Regions from separate parts of the Homo sapiens genome. Here all the other regions are linked to region 4. The links come from fine-mapping of genetic effects on gene expression. A gene starts in region 4. Each other region holds a variant in brackets. All regions are shown on one strand. Distances are between the middles of the regions. Region 1 overlaps NUTM2D (NUT family member 2D). Region 2 has its middle 47 kb from the start of PAPSS2. Region 3 overlaps SHLD2 (shieldin complex subunit 2). Region 4 holds the start of MINPP1 (multiple inositol-polyphosphate phosphatase 1).

What was found. PIP is the estimated chance that this variant, and not a neighbour inherited with it, causes the effect.
Region 1: its variant is fine-mapped to the expression of MINPP1 in breast (GTEx, PIP above 0.99).
Region 2: its variant is fine-mapped to the expression of MINPP1 in whole blood (TOPMed, PIP above 0.99).
Region 3: its variant is fine-mapped to the expression of MINPP1 in whole blood (TOPMed, PIP above 0.99).

The regions. Positions count from the first base shown.
Region 1 is chr10:87,363,802-87,371,905 of GRCh38, reverse strand. NUTM2D (NUT family member 2D) reads right to left here. Exons shown (of 7, transcript NM_001382304.1): 4 at 7,528-7,667; 5 at 6,703-7,085; 6 at 6,101-6,217; 7 at 4,711-5,767. The coding sequence ends at 4,982. Among named protein-coding and RNA genes, the nearest start is that of NUTM2D, 10 kb to the right of the region's middle. The variant A/G (reference allele first, on the strand shown) is at 4,633.
Region 2 is chr10:87,608,964-87,617,067 of GRCh38, reverse strand. No RefSeq gene overlaps it. Among named protein-coding and RNA genes, the nearest start is that of PAPSS2, 47 kb to the left of the region's middle. The variant C/T (reference allele first, on the strand shown) is at 3,756.
Region 3 is chr10:87,150,322-87,158,418 of GRCh38, reverse strand. It overlaps SHLD2 (shieldin complex subunit 2), which reads right to left. Exons shown (of 10, transcript NM_001330112.2): 3 at 5,540-7,069; 4 at 264-371. The coding sequence starts at 7,064. LOC124902475 (a long non-coding RNA gene) reads left to right here. Exons shown (of 3, transcript XR_007062222.1): 3 at 1-239. It also overlaps the pseudogene RN7SL733P. Among named protein-coding and RNA genes, the nearest start is that of SHLD2, 59 kb to the right of the region's middle. The variant G/A (reference allele first, on the strand shown) is at 3,796.
Region 4 is chr10:87,500,839-87,508,942 of GRCh38, reverse strand. MINPP1 (multiple inositol-polyphosphate phosphatase 1) reads right to left here and starts at 4,050. Exons shown (of 5, transcript NM_004897.5): 1 at 3,391-4,050; 2 at 410-607. The coding sequence starts at 4,027. It overlaps MIR4678 (microRNA 4678), which reads right to left and starts at 5,062; the gene lies at 4,989-5,062. LOC112268064 (a long non-coding RNA gene) reads left to right here and starts at 4,109. Exons shown (of 2, transcript XR_002957094.2): 1 at 4,109-4,608. RefSeq lists enhancers at 3,771-3,830, 3,991-4,080 and a cis regulatory region at 7,941-8,104.

The sequences.
Region 1 (8,104 bases), 140 kb after region 4:
AGAAGTAAAATTATTTCTATTTACAGATTATATGGTTTTATATGTAGAAAACCCTAAAAATTCCACCAAAAACCTGTAAGAACTAATAAATGATTTCCGCAAAGTTACAAAATGCAAAATTAACACACAAAAATCCATTGCAGTTCCATACATTAGCAATGACCAATATGGAAAGGAAATTAAGAAGAAAATTTCAGACCAGGTGCGGCAGCTTACACTTGTGATCCCAACATGTTGGGAGGCTGAGGCAGGCGGATCACTTGAGGCCAGGAGTTTGAGACCAGCCTGGCCAACATAGTGAAATCCTGTCTCTACTACAAAAACAAACAAATAAACAAACAAACAAACAAAAACAAAAAACCCACAATTTTATTTATAATAGCATGAAAAAGAACAAAATACTTAGAAATAAACTTAACCAAGGAGGCAAACAACTTGGACACTAAAAATTACAAAACAACAATGCTACAAGAAATCAAAGAGTATATAAATAAATGAAAAGACATCTCCATGCATGTGGATTTGAAGACTTAATATTGTTAAAATGTCCATATTACCTAAAACAATTTACAAATTCCATACAATCCCTATTACAGCATTATTCACAGTAGCCAAGAGATGCAATCCAAATATCCATTGGTGGATGAAAGGATAAAATATGGTATATACATACAATGGAAGACTAAGCAGCCTACGGAAAGAAGGAAATCATGTCACATGCTAGAACATGGATCAATCTCAAGAACATTATGCTAAGTGAAATAAGCCAATCACAAAAGGACAAATACTTTCCCTTCATATGAAGTATTTAAGGTAGTCGAAATCACAGAAACATAAAGTAGTGGTTGCCAAGGGCCGGGGGTGGGAGTAGGGGGAAAATTAGTATTTAATGTGTACAAAATTTCAGTTGTGAAAGATAAAAAATTTCTAAAGATCTAAATTTCACAATGATGTGAATATACATAACATTACTAAATTGTACAATTTAAAATGTTTAAGATGGTTTTTAAAAAAGGAAAAAGCATAGGAATAAATTTCATGACCTAAGACTAGTTAACGGTTTCTTAAACATGACATCAAAACCACAAGTAACAAAAGAAAAAATAGATAAATTGGACTTCATCCAAAGTAAAAACTTTTGTGCTTCAAAGAGTACCATCAAGAAAGTAAAGGACAACCCACAGAAGGAGAATATTTCTGCAAATTATATCTTGTAAAGCATTTTTATCTGGAATATATAAAGAATTCTTATAACTCAATGACAAAACACAAACCAGTTAAAAATTACTAAATGTTGAGTACACATTGCTCCAAAGAAGATATACAAGTGGCGAATAGGTACGTGAAAGAGGTTCAACATCAGAGAAACACAAATGCAAACTACGATGAGATGCAACTTCAGAACCACTAGGATGACTTTATCAAAAAGAGAGTTGATAATAAATGTTGGCTCGAATATGGAGAGACGCTGGGACCCTCACACAGCTAGTGGGTATATAAAATGGTTCATGTACACTGGGAACAGTCTGGCACCTTCTGAAATGGTTAAACACAGAGTTTCCATATGGTCCACCAATTTCACTCTTAGGTATGTAGCCATGAGAAATGGAAACATACATCCCCAGGAAACCTTGTACACAAATGTTCTTAGAAGTGTTATTCACAATAGCCAAAAAGTGAAAAAAACCCAAACGTTCTTAACTGATAAATGGATAAATTTTAGTATATCCATTAATGGAATATTATTCAGCAACAAAAAGGTTTGATGTAATGATACATACTAAAAATGTAGATGCCATTGGAAATATTATTCTAAGTGAAAGAAGACAGATGTGAAAGACACACATTGTATATTCCATTCATAGGGCATCATGCAACGCTGAAGTTAGAATCAAAGTGAGCTACAAAAGGGCAGCCACCTGGATCAAGTCCATCCTCATAGCTGTCAGAAAGCACAGCATGTTCACTAACGGGGGCAAGCCTTGCTCACGTTGTCAGATGGAGTTTCCCAGGAGGCTATGGCTTCTTCGGGGATCTGTCATCCAATGGTGAAGGGAGGGGTCTCTGGAGGCAAACCTGCCAGGGGCCACCCCAGCCGCACTGGTTCCCAGAGAGTGACCTGGGTGTGTGAGCAGGGAGGCCAAGCCGACCAAGAGCCTCAGCACACCCCCAGCACCTGCTGTGAGCAAGCTGCATGGCTTCCCCAAGTGTGGATGCGATGACATCATGGGTATTTACAGATTCCTTTTCACTGTGTCCCAGGCTCTCCTGGTTCATGTGTGATACACTGCACTTGGGGTGGAGGTGTGCTGACAGTTGTAAAGGGCTGAGCCTTTCTTTCCCGTGGCTCTGATGCACGGTTTCCAGATACCAGTCATGAAGGAAGTTCTTGAGATTATGGACTTTGTCCTAGTCACATAGGGCTGCTCGGACAAAGGGCCATAGACTTGGGGGTGGTGGCACATATTAAAAAAAGAAATGTATTTGTCACAGTCTGGAGGCTGGAAGTCCGAGGTTAGCATCCCAGTGGGCAAGGTTCTGGTGAGGGCTCTCTCTCTGGCTTGCAGATGGCCGCCTTCTCAGTGTGTCCTCGTGTCAGGGAGAGAGAGAGCTCTGGGGTCTCTGCTTCTTACCAGGGCCCTAATCCCATCATTAGGGCCCCACCCTCATGGTCTCTTCTAACCCTGAATAACTCCCAAAGGCCCCATTTCCAAATACCATCACGTTGGGGGTTAGGGCTTCAGCACAGGAACTGGGCGGGGGACGTATGTTCAGTCTACCAGAGCCCCCCAGTCAGCCCCACTGTGCCCATTTAGGGGCAGATTGTAGGGCTCAGGTGGGACACAGAGGTGGAGGAAGCACAAGTTCTGCTTCCTAGGAATGGCTCAGCCAAGACAAGGACAGGGACAGTGGGATAGACAACAGCCAGTGGGGTAACCAGCAGGAGCCCCAAGGTGTCACTTTCACCCTTAGGTGAGGAAGTTGGCTGGGCACCCACACACGCCAGAGTATGGACCATGTTCCCTTCAAACACGGCTCACTTAACATTCCTAAACCCTGCAAAGGGGCAGTGCTACCTTATCTCCTGAGGATGGCCGTGAATGTAGAGGAGTCACGGGAGCTGCCCACATCACCCACCAGTGACTCTTCGCTCCCCACATTTTCCCCGAGGGCCTGACGTGCACTGAGCTGGGGAAGCCCTGCCAAGATAAACTCTCCTTCCCAAAGGCCACAGAAGACAGCAGGCCTCCGACACTGCCCACATCGAGCAGAAGGGACGGGGCAGAGGGGCATCTGTCAGGCTGACTGCTGTGTTCTGTGGGCAGATGGGGCCAGAGAGGACCCAAACATGGCTCCCTTTGTCACTTGGCCGAGGGGCCAGGCCACCGTGTACCAGACAGCTTTGCCCCACCAGCCTCTGCTGCTGGGCCAGCCCCCAGGGCCGTGACCACAGCTCTGCACGCAGGCAGTGCTGGGACCAGTGCCCTGGCAGTCACAGGGGTCCTGAGCCAATAAGCGCCCTGGGGGAGGAATCAGAACTCAGACCGTGGAGAAGAAGGTGTTGGCCAGGAGGGAACCAGGGTGGGTGCCGGGTCCTGTCCACGCTGGGATCTGAGATTCTAAGAGGTGGGTTAGGGGTAAGGGGGGCAGAGTTGGCCCATGGGGTGAGGGCAGTTCAGCAGAGATTGGGAAGACAGGACAACCTGGGAAAGAGCAGAGCATCCTCCCCAGCCTCGGTCCCTCTCCTGATGCAGTCCTCATCTCACTCATAGACTCTGGAAGTCTCCCTTTGGCGAACACCTAGCCCCCAACTCCCAGGGCACTTCCCAGACAGCCAATGCCACATCCCAGGCAGCCCCTGCTCTGCCCTTGGGGTCTGTGCCTGGCAGAAGGGCGGCTGACCCTCGGCCCCTCTTGGCCTGGGCCCCAGCTCCTCCGGGCCCTGGAACCAGCAGAAACCCCCACCCTGCGCCTGATGGACTGGACATGCTTGTTCCCATTGGTGATGGTGTGTTGGGAGGGAACTGTTTTAGAAACCAATGTAAATCTGTGTCTACATCAATTCCACATGAGTTCAGTCATCATATGGGAAGGGAATCATAGCTGTGGGGGGCTCCATGCAGGACCTTGAGGGCCCCGAGGCCAGTCCCTGTGGCCACAGCAAGGAGCATCTGCTTTAGCTAGTTGGACAAGACTCTCTCCTGCCCAGAAACAGGCAGAAGGACTTCCCCTGCTCCCCACCCATCATCGTATCCCAAACACACCTGTGTGGATGGTCACCTCAACGTCTCCCCTCAGCCCAGTGCCCGCGCTCTTCCTGATGAGGGTTAAGCAGGAGCAGCCTCCTCTCCCCATGTCCATGTTGCAGGCGGCTGCCTTCTCCTCAGCTCCCACCGAGCAGAACAAGAGCCAGCCAGCTCTCTCCAATCCCAGGATTTTCCAGGGATGCTGATAACGATGAGGGGGCCCCAAGAAGCCTCCCTAAAGCAGGCAGGGCCTTGTGAGTGGGTGGTGGGAGGGATCAGGGCTTCCTCAGCATCTGTCAGTCCCTGGAGCATCTGAAGGGGCTCCCTACGTCAGGAGGAAAGAGTGGGGCCGGCCTCTGTGGGTTCCCAGAGCCTGGCATCTGCC[A/G]GTTCCTCTGCCCTCCCTCACAGACACCCTCCACGGAGCAGCACAGCACCGAGGACAGAGGCAGCAGCCCCAAGAGCATTTTCCAAGACAACTACATTTATTCACACTTACACACGAGGCCCCCAACACACTGCTTCCCACCCCCACTCCCCAGCCCCTTCCCCCCAGACCCTCCCTTCCTGCCCTCCCCATTCAGGCCACCCTCTCCCTCCCCTCCCTCCCCTACCCTCCAAAGCTAAGGCCCAGCAAGATCAGCACTGGGGGAGAAGAAGCTTTTGACCGCTTTGGGGCATCGGATGCCAGAGCCCCATCCTTGGGGATCGGCCCCAGAGAGCCTGCTCAGAAGCCCCTACTGGCTACAACGCTGCTTCTTCTCCTTCCTGGAGACCAAGGGGTCACCCTTTCTCTTTTGAGACTGTGAGGGGCCACCCAGCCCCCAAGTCAGGGATTGCTCCCCAGAGACCCTGAGCCCAGGCCCTGGGTGGGGTGTCTTTTCAGCAGGGGACAGGCTTCCAAAGAGAGGTCGCTTCTTGGCCTTGTTGGCAGGAGAAGGTGCTAGGTTGAGGCCTCTTCTCTCAGCAGATGGGGACTGATGAGTTCCCTGGGGTCCCCACTTTTCTGGGCTGAGAAGGCCCGAGGCAGGGACAGGGCTCTGGGGTAGCCACCAGGGCAGAAGCTTGTGCTGGGAACCCAAGAGGAAGGCCAGGCTGGGGAGTTCCTCCTCCTCACTTGACCCCTGAGCCAGCCCATGTGACTCCCTGACAGGAGACCCTCCAGGGAGATCCAAGGCATCCTTGGTACCCACGCCAGGGCAGGTGGGTCTGTGGTCCTGGGGAGGAGAGGTTGGCCGGGCAGCCCTCAGCCCAGGGGAATCCTGACATCCCAAAAGCACAACAGAGTCTTTGGACCTGGCCATGCCAGTGTGTGCTCTGCCTCGTCCCTGAGAGTCCCGGGCAGTCGTCTGGGGTGGGCAGGTTTCCATGCCAACCCCTTGTTGGGGGTCAGGGACGTCTCTCTCTGCTCCTTGGCCAGCTGCAAACTTAGAAGAACTTGAGTCCAACCGGGCTGTGCCACGACTAGGGGCTGCCCTCGCATGCTGTTTCTCCTTCAAGGGTAGGAGGCGCTTCTCCACTAGCTGCGGGAGGAAAGGGGGCACTTACGGGCACTGCCCCAGGTGTGAGCGGGGCCCAGGGTGGTGGAGACCAGGGCACTTAGGCGGCAGGTAGGGAAGCCTGAGGCAGCTGGGCTTTATGTCAAAGAGAGAGGGTGTGGCTCTGCCGGGCCTCCCGTTGGGCCTCACCACAGCTTGCATGCTGACTCCCCTCCCTGGCTCCTGTCCATCCTACTCCCTCTGAACCTGCATCTTCCCACTCCAGAGTGGCTCCCCAAGAAGCCGAGCATCCCCAGCGGGGGGGATTAGACAATCAGGTGGGCCTTGTGTGCCAGGTCCCTCCTGCCCCTGGGGTACCTGGGCAAGGGTGAGTCCTTCCTCCTGCTCCAGCTCCTGGCTTAGGGCCAAGAAATCCATCTGTGGATCTGGGGAAAGCAATTCTTCCAGGAATTGGGGATGAATGACGGCCTCCACCTGGAAACAGAAGGAAGAAGGCGTGAGCTTCCTGGGCAGGGAGTAACCTGGAGCCAAGGACACCTGGAGGAGATGCAGAAAGCAGCGAGCGCCCCGTCCCCACCCTCCTGGGGCTGTCTCATATCATGGTGACCACCAGCTACAGACACAGACCACAGACCTGGTAGCTACACACACACAGACAGAGACACACAAACCACACACAGACACACAAACAGACCCACATATGACACAGGAAAAGACACAGACACAGGTAACGTACACACTCCACACTCACACCCACACAGACACACAAAGACACACAGTAACAAACCACAGACACAAACACACAGCAACACACAGACACACACAATCACATACACAGACACTCAAATCCTTGGAAATACACACACTGCTGAGTAGCTAAGGAACAGAGCTTAATTCCAAGGACCTGGGAGTGCCACCCCCTGGAATCCAGCAGACCCCAGCACTCCAGGCCAGCCCACCTTGGTGACGAAGTCTTTCTGGGAACACAGCTTGTCAGTGTAGCTCAGGAGGCCCGGGTCTGGGGGCGTCCAGTCCTCTTCCTGTGGCTGCTTCACTTCGCCCTCTTCCCGTTGTTTCTCGGGCTCCCCCGTGGCCCCGAGAGAAGGCCCCAGCAGCTCCTCCATGATGTCCACATACTCCTGCACCACTTCTGGGGGGATCTCCTCAGGGACCTTGGTCTCTGCTGGTCTCTGGGGCCTGGGTGGTGGCAGGCGGGCCTTGGTCTCTGCTCGCCGGTGGGGCCGGGGTGGTGGCCGGCGGGCCTTGGTCACTGGCCTCTGGGGCCTGGGTGGTGGCAGGCAGGCAGTCGGGGCCTTGGGGCCGGCCTTGCTGGGAAGGTACACTGAGGCAGAGAGGGAGGAGGACGGGCGTGGTGAGGGCCGCTCCTCCTGCTGGCACCACACAGGGGAGGGCAGGGCTTGGGGATGTGAAGTGGGTCCCAGCTGGGTCAGGACCACCTGAACCGCAGCACCCCCGGAGGAGGCAGGAGGGGCACATCTGAGACAGCATCGCTTGGGAGGAAGTTTGGAGCCACCAATATGCCGTGTACTCTCCCCGCTCATCCCTGCTTCCTGGGCAGAGCATATGTGGAGTTTTGGACAGGCGAGGGGAGAGAGTAGCTAGGAAACTTGACCAGGTCAATACCGAACATATGCTCCTGGAAACTGTCCTGTTGGAGGGAGCAAATCCCCCTCTCGAAGGGAAGCATGGGGTGTGGGGACAGTGGCCTCCCTTGGCCCCTTTGGCCTTTGCCATGGCTCCTGTGGGAATGTGGGAAGCCATACCTGGCTGCTTGACCACCTCAGGGGCCGGGGGTCCTCGAGGTTCAAGCCTCGGTGTGGCTGGAGGAGGCAGGCACTGGGGCCCCTTCATCCATTGCGATTTCTGAATCTGCATCTCCTCCTCAGCCTCAAACTCCAGGAACCTGGCGGTGAAGGAGGCCCAGGCTGTGCTGAGAGGGTCCAGGCCCCCTCCCCCCAGGACCAGGCAGCGGCCGAGGGCAGGGATGGGAGGGAGTGCCTCGGGTGGGCTGTCCAGGCCCTCACTGTGTCCCATCCCCCAGTCCCAGGAGAAAGCTGCTCCCAGAGTTCTGGGCTCACCCTCCCTCACCCGGCCCCTGCAGAGCCCATGGCATCAACGGGGCTTCCTGACTCAACTCAGGGCCACGAGGTCCAGGAGGGTCTCGGGGGACCCCTCCTCCAGGTTTCAGCTGGCCAGGGGTGGGATTTATGGCAGAAGGCATCAGGGATGATGCCCAGATGCAGGAGTCCTGAGGCTAGGACTGTGGGCCCCTGAAAGATAACCCAGGGGCACGAGGCCTGGGAGACCCCTGGTCAGGAGGAAGCAAAAGCTGAGCTCAGA
Region 2 (8,104 bases), 110 kb before region 4:
AGCAACTTGCAGACCAGGGAAATGGCAGATGTGATTTCAGAGCTGTTACTGGTTGCCTCTCTCATCTCAGGGGTGTTCGAATACTGTCCCTCTGCCTGGAACAGCATATGCAACTTTCTTACCTACCTCACCCTACCAGTCCCTCAGCATAGGTGACATCTCTTCTAGGAAGGCTTTCTGGGCACCCAAGATTGCTTAGTGCCTCCTTACCTGCTCCCCTATTGTGATCCTCCTCTGAAATGCCCACCAGATGGGTAAAATCCACTTACTACCACCCTCCAGGCACAGTTCTTGGCTGTCGTCTTCCTGAGGGCAGGGTTACCACAGTCTCTGCAGTGCTCAACCCTATGCCAGCAATTGCTAGCAATTATAGTAGCAACCATAATCATTATGACCAAGATACTCAATTAGTTTTCTAGGGCTGCCATAACAAAGCACCATAAATTAGGTAGCTTAAAACCACAAAAATTTATTGTCTCACAGTTCTGGAAGCTGGAAGTCCAAAATCAAGATGTTGGCAGGGCCATGCTCCCTCCAAAACCTGTAGGGGAATCCTTCCTTGCTCTTCCTAGCTTCTGCTGGTGGCCATTCATCCCTGATGCTCCTTAGCTCGCAGCTGTGCCACTCCAGTCTCTGCCTGTATCTTCACAAGGCCTTCTCCCTGTGTGTCTGCATCTTCACATGGCGTTTGCCTCTTCTAATAAGGGCACCTGTCCTATTGGCTTACAGCCCACCCTAATGACATCACCCTAACTTGATTACATCTGCAAAAACCCTTTTTTCTAAATAAGGTCCATTCACAGGTACCAAGAGTTAGGACTTCAACATATCTTTCTAGGGGACACAATTCACCCCATAACACTGAGAGCTTGGCATGGGCAGGTGCTGTTCTCAGTGTTTCACCAGCATTCACTCCCTTAATCCTGACGACACCCTTGTGAGGTAGCTGTGATCACCATGCCCACTTGATAGACCAAGAAATTCGGGTAAAAAGAGGTGAAGCAATTCACCCACGTTTAAATTTGTATGCAATTTTGATAAGCTGAGAAGGTGGAACTTCTCTTTTTCTTGCCTTTCTTCCTCTTCTTTTCCTTCTTGAGTAATTAGAGGGCTAACTTGTAGGAACTGCATACATAGTGCTCCTCAAACTTTAATGTGCCTATGAATCACCTGGGATGTTGTTCAAGGGTAGATTCTGATTCAGGTCTGAGGTAGGGCAGGAGATTTAGCTTTCCCAAGTAGCCCCCAGGTGCTGCAGTTACACTTTGGCCACACTTTGATTAGAAAGATCACTTGGTTCCTAAGTACTAGTGCTATCAACCATTAGGGTGCTTTGTTTATTTATTTATTTTATTTTATTTTTTGAGACAGGGTATTGCTCTGTCACTCAGGCTGGAGTGCAGTGTCAGGATCACGGCTTACTGCAGCCTTGATCTCCTAGGCTAAAGGGATCCTCCCACCTCAGCCTCCCAAATAGCTGGGACTACAGGCACACCATGCCTGGCTAAGTTTTTGTATTTTTTGTAGAGACAGGGTTTCAACATGTTGCCCAGGTGGTCTCGAACTCCTAGACTCAAGCAATCTACCCACCTTGGCCTCCTAAAGTGCTGGGATTACAGGTGTGAGTCTGTGCCTGGCCTGGAGTGCTTTTTAATTACTACTTCTCAGGCCTCACTTAAAACCTTCTGACTCAGAGTCTCAGAGGCAAGACATGGAAATCTGTATTAGCCTTTATTTGAAAAGAGGTGATTCTTAAGGGCATCTAGGTTCGCAGACTACTGGCCTCGACAAACTAAATGTTGATTTGAATTGGCCTGTTATCATCTTGATCACATTGTAGTTAAGAGCAAGACATTTGAGTTAAATGATGGTAATTAGGACTTCAAAACTGGTTTAACTACATCCAAAAAAATATGTCAACCCAGAGGCAGTCCCTTAGATGAGTGGTCTGATCCTGCCTTGGGGAAGATGTAAGTGCCTGACTTGGATGCAATCATATGCTTATCAAGTTCGAACGTGGCAAAAGACTGGATGGGAAACCTAATGCGATTGCTAAAAGAAAATCAAGATTTAAGAGAGCCTTAATAGGTTCAGACATTGAGTCAAAAGAGTAAGATTAGAAGTGGTTATAACAGGGTATGTCAAGTTTATAAAATGAATTGTAGAAGTAAAGGATGGAGAAACCTGATGCTATGATTTGGATGTTTGTTCCCTCCAAATCTCATATTGAAATGCAATCCCCAGTGCTGGAGGTGGGGCCCCGTGGGAGGTGTTTGGGTCATGGGAGCGAATCCCTTACAAATGGCTTGGAGCCTTCCTCATGATAATGAGTTCTCGCTCTGAGTTCACATGAGATCTGGTTACGAGTATGGCACCTTCGTTCTCACCATGAGAGGCACCTGCTCCCCCTTTACCTTGATCGTAAGCTTCCTGAGACCTCACCAAAAGCAGACGTTGGCACTACACTTCCTGTACATTCTGCTGGATTGTGAGCGAATTAAATCTCTTTTCTTTTTAAATATGCGGTCTCAGGTATTCCTTTATAGAAACAAAAAAACGGCTCAACACACCTGGCTTGAGAACTATAGTATAATTAAACTAAAAGTATAATGCAACAACCTAAACATCTCAAGTGATCTTAATCTGTATTTCTACTAATACAAAGAAGGTGACAGTCTCAGGGCTCCCTCAGGGCTCTGCCTGGCCAGAGCAGAGGTGGTGTACCATGTTCACATTGGGATGCCATGTAGTAAGAGTGGCAGTAGGCTGCACCCTGTGGAGAAAGATCAGGTTGGTGAAGCAAATGTAAGTCATGGCCCCCAAGACATGGACGAAAAAATTAATACTACCTTGGAAGACAGAAGACAAAAGAATACTTGAGCCCCATCTGAAAATACTTGGGAGCTTGTTATCTGAAAGAGAATGACCTTGTTCTAAGTAGCTTCAAACAGGCAGAAGCAGGATAAGTGGATGGAAGCTGCAGGGAGATAATATTTTAGCCAGCATATATGGGAGAACATTCTAAGACCTGACCTGATTGATGGTGAAATAAGATGCTTGAGGAAAGATTCAACTCTGTGTTCCTTTAAGTGTTCAAGGAGCTGCGTCATGGGAAAAATTCTTTTCACTCTTTGCAAGGCTGGGATACATGGCCTCTTAAACACTTCCAGCTGAAAAGGGTCTGTGATTCCAAAAATGTGCAGAAAAAGATGCATTCATATACTATCAACAGTCTGCCTCATCTCCCAGAGGGTTTTTATTTTGTTTTCCTCTTTCTTAAAAATAGAAATAATTATGTCCGAATGTAAAGTCCTTCCTTTTTTTTTTTTTTTTTTTCCCCTGAGATGGGCTCTTACTTTGTCACCCAGGCTGAAGTGATGTGATCTCAGCTCATAGCAGGCTTGGTCTCCCAGGCTCAAGGAACCCTCCAGCCTCAGCTTCCCAACTAGCTGGGACTACAGGTGTATGCCACTTTACCTGGCTAATTTTTTGTGTTGTTGGTAGAGATGGGGTTTTGCCATGTTGCCCAGGCTGGTCTGGAACTCCTGAGCTCAAGCAGTCTGCTTGCCTTGGCCTTCCAAAGTGCTGGGATTATAGGCGTGAGCCACTGCACCCAGCACAGAGTCCTTATTTTAAAGTGCTTTGATATTGCTGAAAATAATATTTTGTCATAAGAAGAATTTCATTGTTTTGCTCATTTTATTCTATATACTGATCAAGTACCTAATATTGACAATAATTAATGATGATAATAG[C/T]TAACATATAGTGCTACTTGTCAGTCACTGGTTTTAGCACATATTAGCCCATTTAACCATTGCTGCAATCCTATAAACCAGGTGATAGTATTATCCCTATTTTACGGATGAGGAAACTGAGTCACAAAGACATTAATTAACTCCCTTGAGGTCACCCAGAGGCCTCAAAGAGTAGCAGAGTCAGGATTCAAACCCAGACAGCCTTGCTCCGGGATTGGTACTCTGAACATCTATATTGTATTAGTCTGTTTCCATACTGCTAATAAAGACATAAGTGAAACTGGGTGATTTTTTTTTTATTTTTTCGACGGAGTTTTGCTCTGTCGCCAGGCTGGAGTGCAGTGGCACAATCTCGGCTCACTGCAATCTCCACCTCCCAAGTTCAAGCGATTCTCCTGTCTCAGCCTCCTGAGTAGCATGTGGCACCACACCCAGCTAATTTTTGTATTTTTAGTAGAGATGGGGTTTCACCATGTTGGCCACGATGGTCTCAATCTCTTGACTTCATGATCCACCCACCTTGGCCTCCCAAAGTGCTGGGATTACAGGTGTGAGCCACTGTGCCCGGCCAAGACTGGGTAATTTATAAAGAAAAAGAGATGGCTGGGGAGGCCTCAGAATCATGACAGAAGATGAAGGAAGAGCAAAGGGACATCTTACATGGCGGTGGGCAAAGAGAGAATAAGAATCAAGTGAAAGGGGTTTCCACTTATACAACCATCAGATCTTGCGAGACTTATTCATGACCACAAGAACCATCATGGGGGAAATCACGCCATGATTCAATTATCTCTCACTAGGTCCCTCCCATAATGGAATTATGGGAGCTATAATTACAGATGAGATTTTTATGGAGACCCACCCAAATCATATCATTCCACCCCTTGCCCCTCCCGAATCTCATGTCTTCACATTTCAAAACCAATCGTGCCTTCCCCACAGTCCCCCAAGTCTTAACTCATTTCAGCATTAACTCAAAAGTCCACAGTCCAAAGTCTCATCCAAGACAAGGCAAGTCCTTTCCACCTATGAGCCTGTAAAATCAAAAGCAAATTATTACTTCCTAGATACAATGTAGGTATAGGCATTGGATAAACACAGCTATTCCAAATGGGAGAAATGGGCCAAAACAAAGGGGCTAAAGGCCTCATGAAAGTCCAAAATCCAGTGTGGCAGTCAAATCTTAAAGCTCCAAAATGATCTCCTTTGACTCCATGTCTCTCTCACATCCAGGTCACACTAATGCAAGAAGTAGATTCCCATGGTCTTGGGCACTCTGCCCCTGTGGCTTTGCAGGGTACAGCCTCCCTTCTGTCTGATTTCACAGGCCGGCATTGAATGTCTGTGACTTTTCCAGGTGCGTGTTGGATCTACCATTCTGGGGTCTGGAGGATGGTGGCCCTCTTCTCACAGTTCACTAGGCAGTGCCACAGTGGGGACTTTGTGTGGGGGCTTGAACCCCACATTTCCCTTCTGTATTGCCCTAGCAGAAGTTCTGCATGAAGACTCTGCCCCTCCAGCAAACTCCTGCCTGACCATCTAGGCGTTTCTACACATCCTCTGAAATCTGGGCAGAGGTTCCCAAACATCAATTCTTGACTTCTGTGCACCTGTAGGCTCAGCACCGTGTGGAAGCTGCTAAGGCTTGAGGCTTGCACCCTCTGAAGCCACAGCCTGAGCTGTACCTTGGCCCCTTTTAGCCACATCTGGAGAAGCTGGGACACAGGGCACCAAGTCCCTAGGCTGCACACAGCGGAGGGGTCCTGGGCCTCACCCATGAAGCCATTTTTTCCTCCTAGGCCTCTGGACCTGTGATGGGAGGGGCTGCCACAAAGGTCTCTGACATGCCCTGGAGATATTTTCCCCATTGTCTTGGTGATTAACATCTGGCTCCTTGTTACTTATGCAAATTTCTGCTGCCAGCTTTAATTTCTCCTTAGAAAATGGGTTTTTCTTTTCTGTCACATTGTCAGGCTACAATTTTTCTAAACTTTTATGCTTTGTTTCACTTTTAAAACTGAATGCTTTAAACAGCACCCAAGGCACCTCTTGAATGCTTTGCTGCTGAGAAATTTCTTCCACCATATACCTTAAATCATCTCCCTCAAGTTCAAAATTCCAAAAATCTCTAGGACAGGGGCAAAATGCTGCCAGTCTCTTTGCTAAAACATAGCAAGAGTGACATTTACTCCAGTTCCCAACAAGTTCCTCATCTCCATCTGAGACCACCTCAGCCTAGATTTCATTGTCCATATCATTGGCAGTATTTTGTTTAAAACCATTCAACAAGTCTCTAGGAAGTTCCAAACTTTCCCACATTTTCCTGTCTTCTTCTGAACCCTCCAAACTCTTCCAACCTCTGCCTGTTACCCAGTTCCAAATTTGCCTCCACGTTTTTAGTTATCTTTACAGCAGCACCCCACCCTAGTGGTACCAATTTACTGTATTAGTCTGTTTTCATGCTGCTGATAAAGATACACCCAAGACTGGGTAATTTATAAAGAAAAAGAGGTTTAATGGACTCACAGTTTCATGTGGCTGGGGAGGCCTCACAATCATAGCAGAAGATGAAGGAAGAGCTAAGGGGCATCTTACAGGGCGGCAGACAAACAGAGAATAAGAATCAAGTGAAAGGGGTTTCCGCTTATAAACCATCAGCTCTTGTGAGACTTATTCACTACCATGAGAACAGTATGGGGAAAACCGTCCCCATGATTCACTTATCTCCCACAACATGTGGAAATTATGGGAGCTACAATTCAAGATGAGATTTTGGTGGGGACACAGCCAAACCATATCATATACCAAACTACCTTTTTCTTTTTTTTTTTTTTTCAGGTGGAGTCTTGCTCTGTCACCCAGGTTGGAGTGCAGTGGCACGATCTTGGCTCACTGCAACCTCCACCTCCTTGGTTCAAGTGATTCTACTGCCTCAGCCTCCCAAGTAGCTGGGATTACAGGCATGCACCACCAGGCCTGGCTAATTTTTGTATTTTTAGTAGAGATGGGGTTTCACCATGTTGGCCAGGCTGCTCTTGAACTCCTGACCTCAGGTGATCTGCCTGCCTCTGCCTCCCAAAGTATTGGGATTACAGGCGTGAGCCACTGTGGCCAGGCCGAACTACCTTTTTCATATTACATAAGATACAGTCTTAGATCTGACTGTTCATTAGGCACAATGCCTAGAACAGTGGTCCTCAACCTTTTGGCACCAGGGACTGGTTTCATGGAGAACAATTTTTCCATGGACCAGGGTGGGGGATGGTTTTGGGATGATTCAAATGCATTACATTTGTTGTACACTTTATTTCTGTTACATTGTAATATATAATAAAATTATACAACTCATGGTAATGTAGAATCAGTGGGAGCCCTGAGCTTGTTTTCCTACAACTAGGCAGTCCCTTCTGGAGGTGATGGGAGATAGTGACAGATCATCAGGCATCAGATTCTCTTAAGGAGCACACAACATAGATCCCTCACATGTGCAGTTCACAATAGGGTTTGTGCTCCTATGAGAATCTAATGCCACCCCTGATCTGACAGGAGGTAGAGCTCAGGTGGTAATGCGAGCGATGGGGAGCAGCTGTAAATACAGATGAAGCTTCGCTCACTCACCCACTGCTCACCTCTTGCTGTGTGGCCCAGTTCCTAATAGGCTGATACTGGGCCTGGGGGTTGAGGACCCCTGGCCTAGAACTCCACAATACTTTTAGGGGCCCACCAAAATGTTTTAATTTCTTTTAAAATCAAAAGAAAAAAAGTGAACTTAGGGTTAAAGAAAATGTTTTTTTTTTCTTCACACCAGAAGAAAATAAAACATTTAGAGCCCATGAAAATGGATGATGGAGTGCAGGGGCCCACAAAGGCAAAGTACATAAGGCCCATGAAACTCAGTATGTGGCCCTGACACTTTTACCTGCAGTGAGTTTTGAAACACATTTCTTGGAGTGTTTTAAGCTGACCTTGCCATCAAGCTGGTGCTCTCATCTGTGGTGGTGATACGGGGGAAGGAGAGTGCTGAAGAGGGTAACTCTGGTGCAGGCAAGGACATTATCAAAGGTATGGAGGCCGGCAACCCAGTGTGAATGTGGGGAGCAGATGAGTGTGGCAGGTCAGAAATGATTTACTCAGTTTCTTCACTGGAAGAATTGGACCTCTAGAGAATCGTTAGGGAAAGGCAGTTTGAGTTAGGGCAAAAGAGTACAAAATCCATTTTGTACTGGAGAAGACAACCTTGTCTGGAAAGGGAAATAATTTCCATAGAGTCTGGTGAACAGAGCCTGAGGGGTTGGAAGCAATCCAAACTGTTTGTCAGGAAAATCACATTCACGCTGGGCTGGTAGGTG
Region 3 (8,097 bases), 350 kb after region 4:
CCCTAAAAGGTGAAGAACCACCACTATACTGATGGCCTAAGAAAACGAAACATGAGACCCAATACTTCTTAAAATAAATGTGATTTACAATGTACAAGTTCATTTCTTAAAATTCTATTTTCATTCTTACTAATGAAAAGAAACCAATACTCTCCAACTGTTTAGAAAACATTTTGTAAAAGAACCATTTTAACCCTAATCTTTCCTAGTATGTTTTTATACTTTAAACACTACTACATTACTTCATTTAAAATGTGCCTTACATTCTTCAGGCTGAATAGATGAATAACTCCCAAGATTTAATAACTGACTGCTAAATGTTGATTGTAGTACTGTCTCGCCAATCCATTGGTCCTCATGAATAACAACATCTAGAGAGAGAAAAAACGTTCTGATCATGCCATAAATTCCTTCACAATGTGGTTAACCTACTAGTCACAACAAAATACTATGCATGCCTCCCATATACCAAGCAAGTAGAGATCAAATAGGTTAAATAACCTGCCTAAAGGCACGAAATAAGAAAACAGCAAATCTAAAATCTAAATCTAGGTAAATTAACAAAATTGCTTCTTTATATTCAAATGATAGCAGTATGGAAGTCCACTGCTCTATATAAAAAAGGCTTAATAGTTTTTATTTACATAAGGAAAATGTTATCATGTATATTTCTGATACATTAAAAATAATTTTTTTTAGGACCAGAAGGCAAAGTAGTGGTTCCAAAGCCGTAGTGCCTAGGAGAGTAATAATATTCAGTATGCACTGGTCCCTTCTACTATAAATATATCTGAATATAAGGCATTCTTAACACACTTGATTATTTTTCCCTAAATAGCACTATAATTATCTTCCACATAAGTTAAAAGTGAAAGACTTTGGAGGTAGGGAACATTTTCCAATTGGAAAGAGAGAGCTGTATATCTAAGACGGATAGAGTAGAATCAGGTAGAACTAAACATACCAACAGGTAGAAACAATTGTAGGTAGAGCAAAACGTGTGAGCTGTAAAGAGAAAGAGGGGAAGGGAGCTATCTCTAAGGCAGGATCTAATCAGCATACAGTGTCAGAGGTATAAACATATATTAACAATAGTGAAATAATGTAGAGATAATAGGAAAGAAAACCAAGGATGTATAAATTCCAAGTGATTACTTACAGATTTAGATTCCAGACCCTTTCCTCAGCTTTTGAACCTTTTACCTACAACTGCCTAATGGAAATTCCCACCTGGATATTCCATTGGCTCCCCAAACTCAGCAATGTCCAAACCTGCTTTTCCTTTCATAGCGCCCAACTCATTTGTTGACGCTATGCTGCTAATCAAGTAAACTAACATCTGAAGTCATCTTGCCTCTCCCTTCCCACTCCTTGCCACCAGCCCCCACCTACCCCTCTGCTGCTTAAATGTGCCCATGCCCCACCACTACTACTGTTTTACATTACACATTCCTTTCCCTCCCAACAGGTGCTTGTCCCGCCTGCAACCCATTTCTTACAATGCTAATGAGTCATTCATCAGAGCATTAATGAGTTCAGGCGAGTGATATATCAGAGCATTAATGAGTTCAGGTGACTTACTAAAAAACAGTGGTTCCCCACTGCCTAGCCAGGAAGAGCTAGTACAGCATTCAAGACTTTTCATGATCCAACATTCAGGATGCATGTTCTTCAGAAAAAAGGAACAGACGAGAAATTTCAAGGAGAGCATTCTGAAAGCTAGGACTGTGAAGCATATGTTGGATTAGTGACATGGTAATCACTAGTGGTGCATGGAGGGGATGGGTAGCCCGCCCTGGCCTCCTGGCTCCTTCCTACCCTCTCACTGACATGCCCCAGCTCCTAGTCCTTATTCTGTTTGTCCTTTAAACACTGTTGTTTCCCAATGTTAAGCCTCCCATCTTCTTCTAATTCTAGTCAGTAGTCTCCCTTAGGTAATCCTTATTTTTGGCATCTCTTCATTCTATTGCTAGAAGTTATAATAGCAAACTGTCTGCTGTGTTGGTATTCAACAAGGTCTGGAATACATCTGTTACTTAAAATTTTTCAGTTTGGGCCGGGCGCGATGGCTCACGCCTGTAATCCCAGAACTTTGGGAGGCCGAGGTGGGCAGATCACAAGGTCAGGAGTTCGAGACCAGCCCGGCCAATATGGTGAAACCCTGTCTCTACTAAAAATACAAAAATTAGTCAGGCGTGGTGGCGGGCTCCTGTAGTCCCAGCTACTTGGGAGGCTGAGGCAGGAGAATCACTTGAACCCAGGAGGCAGAGGTTGCAGTGAGCCGAGATCGCGCCACTGCACTCCAGCCTGGGCAACAGAGCAAGACTCCATCTCAAAAAAAAAAAAAAAAAGGAAGATTTCTGTTTGGGGGTATATATCAATAGGTAGTATGAACTACCCAGGCTATCCAACTAAGTTCACTGCCTCATTAGGACAACAGAAAAGTGTAGATTTCTTTTTTTTCCCAACATTTCCATCTGTTCCACACAAAAGAAACTTATTCAGAAATAAGTGAACTAGGTCCTCTTTTTCTTAAAAAGACAAAAAAATCTGATTTTTAAAAAAAATGTTCATAGAAATCATCTAAATGTCTTATAATAGGAAAATGGTTAAGTAAATTGCATTTCAGCCACCAGAGAGAATGTTACCTCGTTGTTAACAACTATAGAGATGTTAGGAAAAAATACAGAGATTGCAGAGTTGAGTTTACACCTACCTAGGAAAAAGGAAAAGGCCCCTGAGAGGTCCCTGCTGACATTAATTGCCTCGGTAAAATGACCATGGTCCAGGATCCAGCCCTCTTTTACAGTCTGGGAAACTTAATTTTGTTAACACTCCAAAACTAGATTTCAGCTCTGCAACATAAGCTCATACTAAATCAACTAATGAAACAAATTAAAGAAAAAAAAATTTTTTTTTCATTTACAATGAGGCATTAATTGCCCAAAAAAACAGTATTTCAGCCTGTTCTCATGCTGTGGGCAGCTCTACAACTAGAAAGCCAAATCACAAGCAAAGAGGTATTCAGCAAGCACTGAATCAGAACAGAGGGAGTTAGGTGAATTGAATCTCCAATAATATAATCACATATAAATAATATTAGCTAATACTGCCAGTGGGATGTGGCTATGCTAAGCCTGTTCATTACAATCTTGTGTTTACCTCTTTATAAAAGATTGTACTCGGCCGGGTGCGGTGGCTCACGCCTGTAATCCCAGCACTTTGGGAGGCTGAGGCGGGCGGATCACGAGGTGAGGATATCGAGACCATCCTGGCTAACACAGTGAAACCCTGTCTCTACTAAAAATACAAAAAAATTAGCCGCGCGCGGTGGCAGGCGCCTGTAGTCCCAGCTATTCAGGAGGCTGAGGCAGGAAAATGGCGTGAACCCGGGAGGCGGAGCTTGCAGTGAGCAGACATCGCGCCCCTGCACTCCAGCCTGGGTGCCAGAGCCAGACTCCGTCTCAAAAAAACAAAAAAGATTGTACTTGACAATCCTACAGGAACACCAAGGTACATTAGCTAAGGTTCTCATTCCTCCTGTAAACTATTTGGTAGGATTATCAATATTGCTTCGAAGTTTTCTTCTTCTAAATACCTCCTCTGTATCACATTCTTTCTTTAGATATTTTATTAAGCTTAATCAACTTCCTCCTGCTCTAATACACCATGTGTCAATTTTAAATCAACAAAGAACATGTAACACAATGTTAGATGTGTTCGGTGAAAACATATTCTGGCCAGGCACGGTGGCTCACACTTGTAATCCTAGCATTTTGGGAGGACAAGGTGGGC[G/A]GATCACCTGAGGACAGGAGTTCGAAACCAGCCCGGCCAACATGGTGAAACCCCGTCTCTACTAAAAATACAAAAATTAGCCAGGCATGGTGGCTTACACCTGTAATCTCAGCTACTCGAGAGGCTGAGGCAGGAGAATCACCTGCACCCAGGAGGCGGAGGTTGCAGTGAGTCAAGATTGTGCCACTGCGCTCCAGCCTGGGTGACAGAGCAAGACTGTCTCAAAAAAAAAAAAAAAAATATTAAATATTCTCTCTGGGTGCAGCGGCATGCGTGCCTGTAGTCCTGGCTACTTGGGAGACTGAGGCAGGAGGCTCACTTGAGCCCAGGAGTTCAGAGTTGTAGCCGATCAGGTGTCTGCACTAAGCTTGCCATCAATATAGTGACCTCCTGGGAGTGGAGGACCACAGGTTCCCTAAGGAGGGGTGAACTGGTCCAGGTTGGAAACAAGGGCATGTTAAAAATACCATGGGCACGGTGGCTCACGCCTGTAATCCTAGCACTTCGGGAGGCTGCGGCAGGAGGATCAATTGAGCCCAGGAGTTGGAGATCAGCCTGGGTAATGCAGTGAGACCCTGTCCCTATTAAACAAACAAACAAAAAATTAAAAATAACAATTTAAAAATTCTCATGCTGATCAGCAATGGGATTGTGCCCGTGAGTACCCACTGCACTTGGCAACATAGCAAGACTCTGTCTCTTAAAAATAAATAAATTAAAAATTAAAAAAACAAAATGTTCTTTATGGTTACAACTATATAGTAAGAGTATAAATTCTGGAGTCTAGGAGAAACTATAGCTTTGCCACTTCCTAGATGTATGACATTGGACAAGTTACTTTACTTCTCTGGGCTTCAGCTTCCTCAACTGAAAAGTAGGGATAAAAATCAGTACCTTCCTCATATACTTGTTGTAATGAAATATGCATGTAAAATCTAAAACAGGGTCTCACAAACTAAGCTCCCAATAAATATGAGCTTCTATGTGTGATATATACACACATGCACACACATTTTAAGGAGAACAGAGAAAATAACTGGAAGGCAACACTCTAGAACTCTATTGGTGGTTATATGAAGTTGGTATAATACCAGTTTTTTCCTTTCCATATTTCCAAGTGTAATTAATATAATTTTGATAATAAGGCAATAGAAATCAATAACTGTTCCCACAGTAAAAATACAATGTGCACAGCATTATTAGACATTAGGTAAAGAAGCAGAAAGGTCTAACTCTGTTGCTCGGGCTGGAGTGCAGTGGCCCAATCAAAGCTCACTGCAGCCTCAACCTCCTGGGCTCAAGCAATCCTCTCGCGTCAGCCTCCTGGGTAGCTGGGACTACAGGCACGCAAACCTTAATTTATTTTTTGTAGAGACGGGTTCTGTGTTGCCAAGGCTGGTCTCAAATTCCTGGCCTCAAGCAATCTTCCTGCCTCAGCCTCCCAAAGTGCTGGGATTACAAGTGTGACCCACTCCACCTGACTAGGGAAGGCTTATTAAAGGAGGGGATAAGTGGAAAGAAGGGACAGAGCTGAGAAGGATAGAACAGAGGCCCAGAAGTGGCAATGGGCAGGAGAGTGGACAATGGAAAGGAGAACAATGCAGATGCGATAAAGGGATCAATTATGCTGCGCTCAGAAGAGGCAAATGACTAAAGAGTCTTCAAAGACTAAGTGGGAGAAAAACAAAAACAAACAAAACTTAGCTTTATAAAATAAGCTACCACTATACCATAATGACCTCACCTGTGAGTAAAATTATATCTCCAAGAAACACTGTAAATGCCCAAAATGCTGCAGTCCTCCACAGAAAAACCTTCTTCTTAGTTTCTGATTGATCAATTACTGTAACTGTTGCTAAAGGCACTTTAGAGCCAGAATTTGGTCCGAATTTTATGTTTATTTCCTTCACATGGCATGGAGATAGCACCATGACTAAACAATTATACTTCTGGCTTTTAGAATCACAGTTTTTTATTAATGATGTTTTTTTAATACTCTTAAATTCAGACACATTTCTCCGATCCATTTCTACAGCAGAATCTCCTCCATTAGAAATCAACTTCATTTTCTTAGCTACTTGAAGGACTCTAGATAGAGCTTCAGACTGGCCCACTTTATCTTCAGAGGTACAGCTTCTTTTAATAGCACTTTTGTGGAAGGTATTTAGTTGGGAACACAGTATTCCTGAGCTACACAACTCAATACGTATCTCATTTGGTGGCAGTTCATCTTCAGAACTGAAAAGTTCTTGAGATCCTGTATGTTCTTCAAGACCTTTATCAGAGTTTATGTGAATGCGGCTATTTTCTGTTTTAGGACAAACAGGACTAAAAAGTTCAAGGGAATATGCTTGGTTTTGTCCACTTTCATATGCTTCTGTAAAACCATCAAGCTGAATCGAATTCTCTTCAGGTATTCTTATCTCCCCGTAACTTGCCTTTGGTTCAGTCTCCATGTTTACATTCCCTTTATTTACAGGACTCCGCCTTTTATCTTTCTTTTGAGCTAAAAAAGCAACCTGGCTGGAGGTAATTATACTGAGAAATTCTGTATCAGTTGATATTTTAAGGTCTGAGACCTTCCTAACTGCTGCTTCAGACCTTGACTTATCTACTGCGTTCGAGGAAAATAATCCCAAACACTGGTTTTGTATTTCATGATATTCTGTTGGCACACACTCTCTTTGTACCACTTCAGGCCCTATATTAATTTTTTCAGTACTACAAACCAAATCCAACACAGCTGCACATTTATGGCCCAACTGAAACAAATTTGTGTTAAAGTTCTTACCACATATATCTGGCTGATGTTTAGGCTGTTCATCTCTAATTTTATTTTCACTGAGAAGCTTTTGATACTTTTCTTCTTCGGTGAAATGCGGAACTGTGCTTTTAAATCCACATATTTGCATATTAGAGCTAGTTATATCACTCAGTCTAGAGGAGTGAATCTTCTGGGATTCTATATTCTGTGTTTCAGAAACAGAACGTACAAAGTCATCTTTCACATGAACATGTCTATTCATACAGTTTGCTAAGAAATGACCACTAAGATCTGGAGAACCAATAGATTCTGGGACTTTATAGTTTTCAAGATTTTTGTGCTGTTTTTCATCCTTCAGATATAAAGAATGTTGACTGTATAAAAGCTGAATTTTTTTCCAGGGGTCAGCAACAGACATTAAAGAAGCTGTGTCTTCTGATACTGTGATTTTCAGTGGAGCAATTGGAGCACCCCAAAAAATGTGGACTTGAGATCCTCCACTCATGATTTCTGATAAAAATGAAAAATCCAAAATTAATATATTGTCAGCATATTTTTGCATATGGATATTAACTTAATAATGTACCAAAAGAAAATATAACTGAGTCAAAAACATAATTAACATAGGTGATTTTTTTGATATGCCATTTAATTATATAAAATTCATAAATACACAAGAAATTATTAAGGAGAAATCACAATATTCACAAAAATTTTTCACCTAAAGACTCACTTTAGGCCGGGCGCAGTGGCTCACACCTGTAATCCCAGCTCTTTGGGAGGCCGAGGCGGGTGGATCACGAGGTCAGGAGATTGAGACCATCCTGCCTAACAGCGTGAAACGCCGTCTATACTAAAAACAAAAAATTAGCTGGGCGTGGTAGCACACGCCTGTAGTCCCAGCCACTTGAAGGCTGAGGCAGAAGAATCGCTTGAACCCAGGAGGCGGAGGTTGCAGTGAGCCTAGATTGCACCACTGCACTCTAGCCTGGGCAACAGAGTGAGACTCCATCTCAAAAAAAGACTCTCTTTAAGGGGAATAAAGCTAAGCACACTCACATCAAACAAGTAAATAGGTTTTTAGTATGTTTGTTTCATTTGAGATGGAGTCTTGCTCTGTTGCCCAGGCTGGACTGCAGTGTTGCCATCTAGGCTCACTGCAACGTCCGCCTCCCAGGTTCAACCAATTCTCCTGCTTCAGCCCCCTGATTAGCTGGGATTACAGTCTGTGCCACCACGCCCGGCTAATTTTTGTACTTTTAGTAGAGACGGGGTTTCACCATGTCGGCCAGGCTGGTCTCAAACTCCTGACCTCAAGAAATCCACTCGCCTCTGCTTGTCAAAGTGCTGGGATTACAGGCGTGAGCCACCGCGCCTGGCCTGTTTATTTCTTATGTTGTAAAAACTTGCCCCATTTAAATAACAAGTTAGTAAAGAATGGGAAAAGAGGCATTTGTTTAACTATATTACAGTCACCTTTAAATTACTCATTTTGGGGCAGAGCACAGTGGTTCATGCCTGTAATCGCAGCACTTTGG
Region 4 (8,104 bases):
ACTTACCCCTCTTACACATTAACAGGTACTTTTGAACTGCTTCAAAAGCTAAAGAATTTATATGATTTTTCCATTTGTATCACTTTATCAGGGGGAAATTCAGAAAAGATAATTTGTTTTAAAAATAATGCCTACAGTTGAGGCTTTATATTACTCTGCCCTCAAAAAAACTCCAGAATATAACTAGAATCTTGTACAGTAATTTAAATAACACTCAAAGAAGAATATGAATCTAAAAATGGTAAATAGTAAGCACAAGGTATACAATTTTTTTGACCCAGAACATATTATTTTCTTAATGTAGATCAATTATGGGTCTTTAAAAAAGACTGTTTCCTTATGTTTTCATTTTCACAGTTCAAAATTATTTAAACTGTTAAGTTCAAATAAAAGACAACAGACATATTACCTGCATTTAAATCATTTACTGGCACTTGCAAAGTAGCTGCAACTTTTTTTAAAATGTTCTGCATTTCTGGTCCAGTTTTGAAGGCTTCCACGTGATAAAGAGCTGTAGCATTTTTTTCTACTTCAGTTAAAAACTTCTCACAGTGATCAAAAAATCTCATTAGTTTATCATTAACTGTTGGAGGTCCAAACTCCATATCTGAAAGAGAAAAAAATTTATATGTATTTGTAAATCACTGACATAAATGACAGTTTCAAATTATTGAAAATGTTAAGTGTGAAAAAGGAACACTAACATCTTACTAATCCGCACAGCTGAAATAAGCACATATTGGTCAGGAAACTCTTGGGGTAAAATTATTCCCCATTTATAATGGCTGTAACGCATGAGAATAGCTAGAAAAGGCTAAAGAAATAGAGATTGAAGATTAAATGTGTTGTAGAGATGCTACGCAATGAAATTGCATCATACATTAATAAGTACTGTTTCTGTCAGGCACGGAAAACTTTAGAAAGCAAACTAAAAATCAGCAAAGTTTCTACTTACAAGGTGAGAGAGAATTCAACATATGGAATCTATTTTTTCACTCTAAGCCAAAGTCTAAACAGAGTATTTTATTTTCTCAATTAACCTTCCCAACTCTGTATTACTTTACAAAGATTCTGCTTTGGACAAAAACTACTGACAGCAGCACAAAACGCACTGATGTTTTGGGTCTCCTGTGCTTCACTGTGCTGGGCCTGTGAATTGGTTTATCTTTTAACTGAAGCCCCAGATAACTTTCTATATAAAATTTAATAAATTACATTATGCCCCCAATTGGGCAACAAATATGTATTGGAGAAGCATTCATAATCATGCTTCAACTACTGGTGTGCCCTTTACGTTTTTTTCAGTCATATTCAAAACACACATTTTTCAATCATTTCTCCAACAATTTACCACGAAAAGAACACCAAGTATATCATTTTTGTACATAAAATATGAGAAAATTGAATATAGTTTTATCTGGGCTTTGGATGTGTATGCAAAAAAAATCAGTATGTATGTTTGTTTCTCTTGAAATGGATAATTCTGCCCACTTTGTCAACTGGATTGCAATTCTTAAGAAAATATCTTGACTAGGAAAATAAGCGAACTTTGTCACCTTTTTTCTGTGTACACTAAAATATAATTTCCCAAGTGCATCTGGGTATTTTATCCTTGTTACTATCTAATTATTGCTAGTCTTTAAACAAAAACAAAGGCATTGTTCTGTTTCTACAAAACTACAAATCTAATTCAGCAGACTCCCTCAAAAGACCAGATGTACATAATAGGCAAAACTATTGTCTATAGAGAATAATAAAGTGGCTAGGCAAAGGGTTTGCTATCTGACACTGAAAACGGTCAGGAGTGGGCTTATTCTGAACTGTAGTATTTTCATCCCTGGCTCTGTACTGAGAGTCAAATGCCAGTCTTCGCAATGCCATCTGAGAACAAAAATTCACTTGTTCCAGGAAGTCGCTATAGATATTGTGTTATATTAAAATATGTTCTGCTTTCACCATTCTGTTAATTTAACAGATTTATGAGGAATTTTCACTCATGCTAATGGAAAAAGTATATATTTAAAAAAAAACACAGTTCAACAAGTAATTAGACACAAGTCAGCTAACTGAATTACCCACAATAACATGACACAGAATCAGTGGAGAAATCCCTTACAGATGGTTTCACTGTTCAACAGCTACAGAAGAAATTACAAACCAGCCTACTTCTAATTTTTCACTTGGGCTTTGAAGCTAAACAATAATCCTCACTTCAATTCTGGCCTTAAAAGTGATCAAGAAACTATTAATGCTTGCTCATCTCTGTGGTACAAAAATGTTACATGTTTTTATTCTTATTAGGTATGTTATTGGACAAATGGAGGCAGTATAGCATAATGGCTAAGAAAGCAAGCTCTGAATCAGATTTCCTGGGTCCACAGCTAGCTGTATGAAAATGGGCAAATTATTTAATGTGTTCGTGTATCAATTTCCTCATCTTTGAGATAAGGGGAAAATACTATCAACTCCAGATTGTGGTTGTAAGGATTTTGTAAAATAAATGTGAGGCATACCTGGCATACAATAGGCATGAGGTGTATGCTATCATTATTATTTGTAACTATTACAACATTTTCTAAGAGAAAAAGAACCATTCTAGGAAAACAGAAGACTTGGATACTAGACCTTAGAGAAAGACAATTAAGAAGGCATACTCTTGGGCTCGGGTTCTTCACCTGTGAAATAACGGGGCCTTACTAGATGATTTCTCAAATTTCGAAAAAGTGTAATTAATGGAATAAATGAGTTGTTACTGCTTGTGACCACGGACCACAGCTACAACGATGGGAACGCTACAGTAAAAACATGAACAAAACAGAAGAAAAAAGGAGGACACAAAGGCTTGAGATCAGGTTCCTAAAACAGGGTGTAGGTCTAAAACTGTCATCTGAAAAAGATGATGAGTTTAAAAAAAAAAAAAAAGAAAGAAGGAAAAACTAGTATCGGAAGCAAAGCCCGAGGAAGAAAATTCTAGATTCTGTTTTTTAAAACGTGCGCCCAATTGTGAAACTAGACGCCAGGGAAGGGGGAAGGGATGGGTTGGCGCTCGAAGGGGCAATTCAGTTTGGGAACGGGAGCGCAAAAATTGCGGGAGACCTCGTCTGTCCCCTTTCCTGTTGGATCCCCAACTCTACTAAAGCAGGCAGCGAGTACAAGGTGCTGAATTTACACCTGATGAATTAATAAATGAACATACGTGTAAGGGGAAAAAGAGATAGCCAAGTCTGTAATATCCCTCGACAGGGAGGACGTAGCCCGAGGGATGATGGCTTGGGAAAAGAGGAAAGAGAACTGGGGGGCATCGGAAAAGCCCAGGGTCTGGGGGAGGCGGGAGAGCATCCAGGGCGGGTGGGAGGACCGGGACAGCACACGGGCCGCCCGGGGGGTCACCTGCGACGTCCGGCGGCGGCAAGCCAGGGTGGTAGTGCTGCCACAGCCCCTGCAGGAAGGCGGCGCTGCTATCCATGCAGCGGTGCTTGGAACTGGTGATGAGCCGCAGGCGGCCGTAGTTCTCACGGCTGAAAAGGGCCGGGAAGAGCGAGGCCAGACGCAGCGCCAGCTGTCGCATATCCTGCCGTCCCTTCTCTACTAGCTGCCCGTCCATCCAGTCCGCGTACCACAAAGGCCAGTCGGCCAGCGCTGCACCCAGGTCGCGGCTGCCGGTACTACTAGCCCCGCCATCCCTGGACCCGCGGGCCTGCAGCAACCCGTGCAGCTGCCTCAGCTTGCGGATCTGTTTGACCGTGGGGTAGCGGGTGCCGTGGCGAATGAGGGCGACCAGCTGCACCGGGGTGCAGGTCCCCTCCAGCAGCTCAGGGTCCCGCCACGGAGCCTCGGGGCCCGACAATAGCACGGGGTTGACATCCTCGTAGCGAGTCTTGGTGCCGAAATAGGGGCTGAGCGACGAGGCCACCGGGTCCCTCGGCTCTAGAAGAGAGCAGCGCGCAAGCGACGAGAGCAGCGCCGCAGCCAGGGCCGCGGCAGGCGCTACGGAGGTCCGGAGGAGGCAGCCGGGCGCGCGTAGCATCGTCGGGACGGTCAGTGGAGTGCGCCGAGCCAGCTGCAGATGCCCAGCTTCCGGCTCCGGAGGGCAGGGGGCGGGTCTGGAGGGCGCTTCCGGCCGGCGGCCCTCGGGATGCGCTTCGCTGTTCTCTAGGAGGTACCAACCTCTGGCGGTGGGTCTTGCGTCCCGGCGGAAAGCTCCGAGGAGTCCTGTAGACTTGTGGCTCGGGTGGAGCCGGCGGAAAACCCCGAGAAGCTTGAGACAGCCGTGGCTGAGGTGGAGCCGGCGTCGCTGCCCTGGAGCGTGGGCGAGTTTCCTCTTAGCCGGAGCTTCAGGGATTGACTCAAAGACTCCTCCGCTTTTTTAGTTGTTTTGGGTGTGAATACAGCCCGGACTAAACCTTAGTCGCCTAGACTAAACCTTAGCCTCCCAGGCTGCCAAAACAGCACAGCTTTTACAGATGACTCTTACATCACCATCCCTACTCTGTGATACTGTGTTTTTCAAAGTTTAGTGCCTGAACCATCAGCATGAAATCTGCCTGAGACGGTTGTTGAAAATTCACATCGCTGGGCCTTGCGGCAGGATGCCTCTTGAAGCCCAAGGTTTTTGTTTCGTTTTTTTCCATTTGAGTTTGAAAATAAACAGGATACAGTAAAGCAGAGAACTTGGAAAGGGGCTTACATTCTGCAGGAATTTAAGTCCTGAATCTTTGGTATAATCTTGACCTGGACTACCAGAGCTAACGCCGACATCAGTGAGACAGCACCCTAAAAGTTCTGTGCTTGTTGTTCCCGAAGGCTTAGCGAGTAGAGACATAGCAATCTAGAGAATTTGGGTGCATTGAGTCATGGCCCAACAGATTTACTCTATTATTAAGTATGAGCTAATCTGCTTTGCGAAGCAAACATGCTCTGTATTTACCACCACTCCAGATCCATACGTTCCTCCCATGTACTTACTTACATACTCAAATCAAAAGCTGGGTTTTTTAATAGGTTATTGCTCAGAATCTTTGACCCCAAAAATCATAAGTCTGAACAATACCTTGTTTTTTCCCACTTGAACTCCAGTTTATTTGCCAGCTGGGGAAATAATAAGTATTACAGAAGTCGTACGGTGATCCAGATTTAAGGAAATTGGGACCACGTTTTCATTAAGTTAGCTTTTGCTTCAAAGACACTATTACATTGCTCTTTATAAGCCCATCACCATCTTTACTCCTTTTCTCTTTAAGTGTCTCCTTGGTTTAGAGAGGTGTTCCTCTAAGTTTAGGCGTGCCTCTAAATGTTAACCAAGAAGAAACGGGGCCAGCCTATGAATGCTGAAAATTTGGAGACGTTCTGTGCAGGAAACCATCTTTAGGGCAACAGATGTTCTTTTCGATATGCTATTTTGTAGCATGTCAATGCCTGAATATTCATGGTCAGTGATATTTTTGTAGAACTTTGCTCAAATTAGCATTTAGTAAATATCCGCTCCTTCTTAAAATAGACATTCTAACCCGTATGCTCTATAGGCTGAGTCGCCTGATAATATTTCTAAGTGCATTCAGCGAGCATTTGTTCCAGGTTCATCTCACTGTATTTTGCCTAATACATATGCTTACTAATAACTTCTCACACCCAATCTTTTGAGTCCTAGGGGTTACCAAGTGTTCCCAAAGTCATTATTCACTTCTTCCTTATGAAGCAATCTTTAGAGACTCCACTTACAAAATGTATGGCACAGTACACATTTTTATACATGAAATTTGCCCCTAGTTTGATTTTATTTTCCTTATCTAATTCCTCATCAATTAATTTTATCCTGTTTTATACACTTAGGTATATCAGCTCCTAATTATTTTGATGTTATGCCAAGATAACAATGATAAAGTAAAAGTAAGCAATGCCTCCATGTTTTTGGCTAGGAAAAAGCCAAATATAAAGAAGACGAAGAGTGCTTAAGCTTTGGACCCAGACTCTAATTAGCTCTGCTGCTTATTAATTGAGTGACCCAAGTTCTCTGGGCCTTAGTTTTTTTTTTTTATCTGAAAATTGGTAATATTAGAACCTATATCATGGGATTATCATGACAGAGATGATGTATTTAAAATCCATATGATAGGCCGCTATAAATGATATTTTTATCATTACTAATGTTCAGTGTGATTATTCCTGTGCTAAGATGCCTAGCTTTCTAGCAATTACATGGATTACACTTACTCCCACTGAACATTAAAGTGAATGACTTTCACAGGCAACACATGCATCAAAGATCATTTCATAACTTTTCTAATAATAAAAATCCACTCATTTCACTTAAAATGGATATCTTGTTCTTAGAGCACTAAGCAGCCTTTGAAAAAATTTAAAAAGGTCACAGGCCGTGCTCCTCATTTCATGCCAGACCATGTCTGAATTATCTGGGCACTCTGTAAATTGGATGCCCTTTGACATAGGTGCCCACTTGGTCCAATCATGTAGTACAGAGAAGTTTGCATAGTGCGAAACATGGCTATTCCTTTGCAGAGATCATGGGAACATCACCTCCCCTCATAAGAAATTGTGGGTATGGGAGCAATATATTTGGCAAATCTAACACAATACAAGAGGCAGAAAGGAAAATTAATGGTTCAAGGTCCTTGCAGAGATGGGAGAGGACAGAACCAAAAACACAGGTAGAGAATTTGATTTGGGCCAGAAGGAGATGAGACCTTATCTTCTAAGAGAATGTTAGAAGGATGGGTGAACATGGGGATAAATTTGTAGATCTGGCAGGAGAGAGTTCATAGAATTCAAGTCTGATGGCCTCAGTTTCCACAGTAACATAGGAGACAAGTTTGAAAGATGGGGGAATAGGAATTAAGTCTTGAAATGTGAAAATGGTTTGGATTTGCAACTGAGAGAAATGGGAAAGTAATGGGAAAGGATTGACAACTAAGAGGAATGGGAGAAACAAGTAGAAGTTTGTATGGTCAGCTCTGGAGATCCAACTGAGAATGAATTGCTAGTGGTTCTGCAATTTTATTTAGAAGCAAACATTATCTGTTGTATTTTTTCAGAGTGGAAAAGAAAAAAAGTTTAACTTGATGGTCCTACATTAATGGGTCTTGAGTAGAACTTCATTTCTAATCAATCCACTATACGAAAGGATAAGCTCAATTATTTTTGCCAGATTATCCATAGGATTTCAAAAATAGTCATTCAGCTTTTAAGATTGCATGGTGTCAGCCAGGCACAGTGGCTCATGCCTGTAATCTCAGCACTTCGGGAAGCTGAGGTGCGTGGATCACCTGAGGTCAGGAGTTCGAGACCAGCCTGGCCAACATGTTGAAACCCCATCTCTACTAAAAGTACAAAAAAATTAGCTGGGTGTGGTGGTGGACGCCTGTAATACCAGCTACTTGGGAGGCTGAGGCAGGAGAATTGCTTGAACTTGGGAGGTGGAGGTTGCAGTAAGCTGAGATCACGCCATTGCACTCCAGCCTGGGCAACAAGAGTAAAACTCCATCTCAAAAAGAAAAAAAAAGATTACATGGTGTCATATATAGTATTTTAAGTTAACAGCCATCTACTTTACTTTTAAAGAGGTTACTAAGATAGTTTTCTGGGGATGAAACAATAAAGGAAAGGAAACAGCTAAATTCTGTAGGGAAACAGCAAGGCTCTCTATGTAAGCATATACAATACTAAGAACATGGTCTCAGAAGTTAGACTTTCTGGTTTTCAGATTCCAGCTTCATCTCTTATTACCTGTGAAATATTTAAAAAATTAAATTATTTTGCCACCATTCTTTTTCATTGTAAAGTGGGGATAATAATACCTAGCCATGAGACTGTTGAGAGGATTAAACGAAACAGCTTATATAAAGACTTTATATAGTTTCTGCCCCCAAATAAATATCAGTTGCTTTTATTAAGCAGAATTAAAGGGTTTCTTATTATCACGTCTCTCTTAAATAAACTGACAAATAGTTTTTCATAGATATTTATTATCTCATAACTACATTAAGCAACGAACTTTGTGCCTATGCCAGGAAAGTTTGAGCTTTCTTATCTTTCTGCCCTGCTGTTGCATCATTCCTCTTTTAACAGTTGCCAGATGTTGATTTAGTGT